Linked DNA regions of Homo sapiens: region 1 is linked to region 2. Evidence: fine-mapped expression QTL. Tissue or cell type: whole blood. Region 2 holds a variant in brackets; the other region holds the start of a gene. All regions are shown on one strand. Distances are from middle to middle.

The links. PIP is the estimated chance that this variant, and not a neighbour inherited with it, causes the effect.
Region 1: it holds the start of MCTP1, and the variant in region 2 is fine-mapped to the expression of MCTP1 in whole blood (TOPMed, PIP above 0.99).

The regions. Positions count from the first base shown.
Region 1 is chr5:95,283,568-95,286,250 of GRCh38, reverse strand. MCTP1 (multiple C2 and transmembrane domain containing 1) reads left to right here and starts at 1,157. Exons shown (of 23, transcript NM_024717.7): 1 at 1,157-2,395. The coding sequence starts at 1,676. RefSeq lists silencers at 1,809-1,868, 1,949-2,068.
Region 2 is chr5:94,913,313-94,915,995 of GRCh38, reverse strand. The region is part of intron 8 of MCTP1 (multiple C2 and transmembrane domain containing 1); the gene reads left to right. Among named protein-coding and RNA genes, the nearest start is that of MCTP1-AS1, 64 kb to the left of the region's middle. The variant T/G (reference allele first, on the strand shown) is at 1,645.

The sequences.
Region 1 (2,683 bases), 370 kb before region 2:
ATTTGGGACATACATATACTAATATTATTCATTGTTTCTCTGAAAGTCAGTTTAATTGGGTGTCCTGCATTTTGTCTGGAAGCTCTTCCTCTGTAGCCACTCTGTTATGTGGTACCCTGCTTAACTGTTTCCATGGGACTTTTGCATATTAGAAATTCTGTTTATTGTCTCGCATCACCTCCCAACCCTCACCCTCACAATAAGCTCCATGTGGGTGGGACCCTGATGCCCTGTTCACAGCTGCATCCCCAGAGCCTATCACAGTGCCTGGTATATAGTAGGTGCTTAATAAATATTTGTTATAAAGGTAACAAAAACAAAACAAAACAAAAAACTTAGGTTGGTAACACCTCCAAAGCATACTGCTAGCTAGACAAGACTGATCAGTGTGCTACCGCAGCTTAGGGAACTCTCCCGTTTTCCCCATTTAGGAGGACGAAAGAGGCATTGTGTTGCTGGCCTTTCAGAAGTCTCTCCTAGCAGAATCAGAAGACCCTGGCTGAGCAGCTTTGGGAGAAGCAAAGTCTGAATGAGCTAAAAAGCCTTTTCCGTTTGCCTTGCAACAAGCAAATGAAGTAACCAAAGAAAAAATGCGCTTGAATGAAAAGAACAAGATTCTGTGCGTGCCGAATCGGATCAAAGGCAGTGCGCATCACCCATCTTCGTCCACCGTAAACTCCCTGCAACTTAAGGGCTGGCTTTATCGTCAGACTCCGGAAATGCTAGAACCTGATCATAAGAGACCAGTGCAGAGGCAAATAAAGAAAAGGGAGGGGTGGATGGGGATGAAGTCAAGACAGAAGAAATTAAACTCTCGTCTTGGACCCAGGGAGCGCAACGGGGCGGGGGCAGACGTCTTCAGCTTTAGAACTCCGTCGGGTTCATCGCTCAGTGTGGACGATCGGCGCCCCCACGAGACCCATCGAGGGCACATAGTTTCCACTCCAGCTCGCTTCATCCGACCCAGACGATCGCCAGCGCGGCCAGCGGCCAGCGCACAGCGAGCTGCCTGGGCAACTGTGGCCGGATCCTAGGGAGCAAGCTGGCTTCGGGCCCTACCTAGCTCCACCCGGCTCCTACCGGCCCTCCCACCTAGGAGCTGGAGGATGGTCCCGGGGCGCCCCAGGGGGACTGCTGGTCCCCGGAGTCTCCAGCCAGACGCGCCTTGTTGTGTGAGCCGCGTGCGCGCCCAATTTGGAGGCAGCCGCCCCCGCCGCTGACAGGTGCTGCCCAGAGGGCGCCGGGTGCGGTCCCTGGCGCAGCTGGACGCGCACGCCCCGGTGCGTGCAGCTTCCCGAGCTCGGTCAGAGAGAAGAGGGAGCCAGGGCGCGGCCTGGGGGACGCCAGTGGACTGGAGCCGCGGAGCTTCGAGGGAAAAACTTTGCAGGCGCCGCGGCCGGGATTCGGTTACGGCTCCAGCCCACCCCAGCAGGTGCGGGAGGAAGAGGCAGCGCCGGAGTCCCGAGGCCAGAGAGCCTCGGCGGCGGCGGCCGCTTCTTTCCCCCGAGCTGGCCTGAAGTCGCTGGGCACTCCCGGTTTCTGCTGCTGCGCCCGCCGCCGCCGCCGCCGCCACCGCCAGCGCCGCGGGGACCCGGGAGGAGGTGCAGCCGAAGAGGGAGGAGAAGCAGGAGGAGGAGGAGGAGGAGGAGGGGAGAGGAGGAGCAGGGGGTGGAGGATGGAGCCCCGGGCTGCCGCGGCGGGCGAGCCAGAGCCGCCGGCGGCGTCCTCCTCCTTCCAGGCCCGGCTCTGGAAGAACCTGCAGCTGGGGGTGGGCAGGAGCAAGGGCGGCGGGGGCGGGCGCGCTGGGGGTCCAGAGCGCCGCACTGCGGACACCCCGTCGCCCTCCCCGCCACCCCCGGTGGGCACAGGGAATGCACCGGCCAGGGGGAGTGGTGCAGGCAGCAGGTGGAGCGGCTTCAAGAAGCGGAAGCAAGTGCTGGACCGAGTCTTCTCCTCCTCGCAGCCCAACCTGTGCTGCTCGTCGCCGGAGCCCCTGGAGCCCGGCGGCGCCGGCAGAGCCGAGCAGGGGTCCACGCTACGCCGCCGGATCCGCGAGCATTTGCTCCCCGCCGTAAAGGGGCCCGCGGCGGCCTCGGGAGCAGCGGGAGGGACGCCTCCTGGCGGACGCTCCCCCGACTCAGCTCCTTCCTCTTCCTCCGCCTCATCCTCCCTGTCCTCCTCGCCCCAGCCTCCCCCGAGGGGGGACCGCGCCCGAGATGAGGGTGCACGGCGTCAGGGCCCCGGGGCGCACTTGTGCCACCAGAAGAGCTCCTCTCTGCCGGGCACCGCCTGCCTGGAGCAGCTGCTGGAGCCGCCGCCTCCTCCCGCAGAGCCGGCGCGGAGTCCCGCGGAGTCTCGGGCCCCGGAGACGGGCGAGGAGCACGGCAGCAGCCAGGTGAGTGCCGGTGGCGCGGCCGGAGACAAGGTGCGCGGGACCACGCCTCCCTCTTCAGGCGTTCACCACCCGGGGAGCGGGGGGCGGGGGCCGGGAGGCGGGAGGAGAAATGCTATTAATTCTAAGTAGATGAAACAGTCGAAAGAAAACATCTCGCTCTGGTTTAGCAAAGATGAAAGAGTTCTGACTTGCACCCGGACTTTACTTTTGGTAGAAATGATACCTGTCACCAGAAGCTTTCTGAGTAGTCAATGAAAAGTTAGACCTAAAGTGGGTACTTTTTAGAGT
Region 2 (2,683 bases):
AGGTCCCCATAATTACCACACCCATTAGCCCTGTTTTTATGAAGAAATGTTCTCCTTCCTCCCACTTAGCTCCCCAAGTTGTTTTGGAAATGTTCTTCTGGGTTATAGAAAAGCATTTCACAGCAACTAATGGCAGTAGGTAAAGTCTCTATTATGTTCATTTTATTTCTGTGAAAGCATAAAGGACCCAATGGAAAATGGAATCTTTTCTCCTCCTGTGAGCTTTACATGAGAACATGAACTTGACTTACAGGGTGAAAATGGCTTTTCTCTCCCTCACTCTGTAAGCCAAGTTCATGTTCTCATGTTAAAAACAAACAAACAAAAAAACCAGAAAACAAAATGAAAGGAGGAGCAAGCAAGGAAGGCACTATTTTAGACATGGCACTGTTAAAGAAACTTACTTCACATTGCTAATTGAAGACACTGTGTAAACTAGCTTTTACCCAGCTACTATTTGACTGCTTCTAGAGAGCACATAGAAAAATGGCATTAAGTATATTCTTCAACAAGCTGAAATATTATAAACACATGTGGTCATATAATAGAAAAGTAAAAGACAATTTCATGAATTAGCCATGTGCTTGCCACTTAAGTGGAGAGTACCCTTTGGAAACATTTTGTTTCAATCATACTTACCTTTTAACCTATGAGAGAATCTCCACCCTAAACACTTGTATTGGGGAAGCTCAGGAATAAAGATGAGAAATATTGGGGTTCTAGTCATATATCTACCATTTATGAGCACAACCACTCTGAGTTCCATCAGTAAAATGGGGCTAAGAAGCCTTGCCTTCTGACCTCATGGGGTTTTCGTGGGAACCAAATGTTGTAATGTAGATATGTACACTTTTAAATTCTAAAGCTCTATATAAGTTGGCAGCTATTAGCTCCTTGATCTTTGCTAAAATAATTACTTCTTCTTGCTTGCCACAACATTTGTTTTCTTTGCTTCCTTCTTTGCTACTCATATTCCTTAAAAAAGTTTCCAGTCCAAAGTTTAAAACCCAATTCTCTAGAGTCTGCTGTTAGAGGCAGTCTCAACAGCAGCAGAAGTGGTTAAACCAGTCATACACCAAAATCTACAGCTGGATTATATAATAATAAGTTGCATGAAATCTTAGAACTAAAACAAAGACCTTGGGCATAACTGGGCGCAACAAATTCTAAACAATTACTTTCATCTGAGAAGTCCTCTGTTCAACAAAATCCAATGTGGAAATCCAATATGGAGAACAGACAGGAGCAGAGGGGCTCCAGCTGAAGTGGGCATGGAGTTCTGCAGAACTTGCAGGTGCTCCATGAATTCTCCATTACACTTCAGAACACATTTGAATGCTGCTCTTGAAGCTCACAGGGATGAAGAGTATGTAGACAAAAGCCTGCGTTGATATTCATAGGGCAGAGCCACCAGGCAAAGTTCAAAATGTGCTGTGTTCAACAAGGCAGGAAAATATGCAATGTGATTTTGAAAGATTTTCATTGAAATGTTCAAATATTAGAAGTATTATCTTTTGAAGAATGTAGTTTTCATTTTCCTAATAGAAGCACTCTGAAATGCATGACTTTTGATGATGATGATAAAAATACCTATGGCGTTGCTCTGGTATGGAAAAAGGTAGGAAGTCAAAGTGGGAGGCAGAG[T/G]TACGTAAAATAGACTGTAACTTTGTAACATTAACGTAGAACGGATCAGATAGAAAGTAGTGCTAATCCGTAATTTAGAAGTGTACTTTGAGGTTGAGAGGAATGTTGAATTTCTTTATGAAATGACTGTGAGTAGGAAAAACACATTTGATAATATGAAAGAAACTATTTTTACAGTACTGCTTGATGCTGAATCCAGATTGAAAATGTTTTCACATTTAGTTACTTTCTATGGCTTGTTTTATGTCCTTTTTAGTTTAAAGAGATTATGTGGCCATTTTTAGTAGACTTGCAAATTTTAATAAAAGTCTAAGCCAGGTGTGGTGGCTTATGCCTGTAATCCCAGCACTTTGGGAGGCTGAGGCAGGAGGATCACTTGGAGCTAGGAGTTCAAAGCTGCAGTGAGCTATGATCATGCCACTGCACTCCAGCCTGGTCAACCAAGCAAGACCCTTTCTCTAAAAACAAAACAAACAAAAATAAAAAATAAAAATTAGCTGGGTGCAGTGGTGCATGCCTGTTGTCCCAGCTACTTGGGAGGATCACTTGAGCCCAGGAGTTTGAGGTTACAGTGAGCTATGACCATACCCCTGCACTCCAGCCTGGGTGACAGAGCAAGACTCTGTTTCTAAAAAGAAAAAAAAAAGAATAATAAAAGTCATTAAAGAAAATATTCAGATACTAAAATGTAAAATAAATTCAGAAACATACTTGCCAATATAAATCACATGGGTAACTTTAAACATTTTAAATATTTGTGATGAAAGTTTTAGGTATAAGCAAGACATCTTAGATGGGCTTATTGATTTTGTTTTCTATTTTGTGGTAACTTAAATTGTCCTTTAGCAATCTGAAGCTCAATAATCTCCAAATGTGGCAAGAAAGAAGTTTTTAAACTATCTGGATAGAACTTGCAACTAATCTTGCAATTAAAAACCACCTGTAAAATATATTTATAACATAGAGATCTTCAAACACCATAAATAGTTTAAAAATTAAATACCACAGTATGAACGAGGCCTTTGATATTTCTAACATT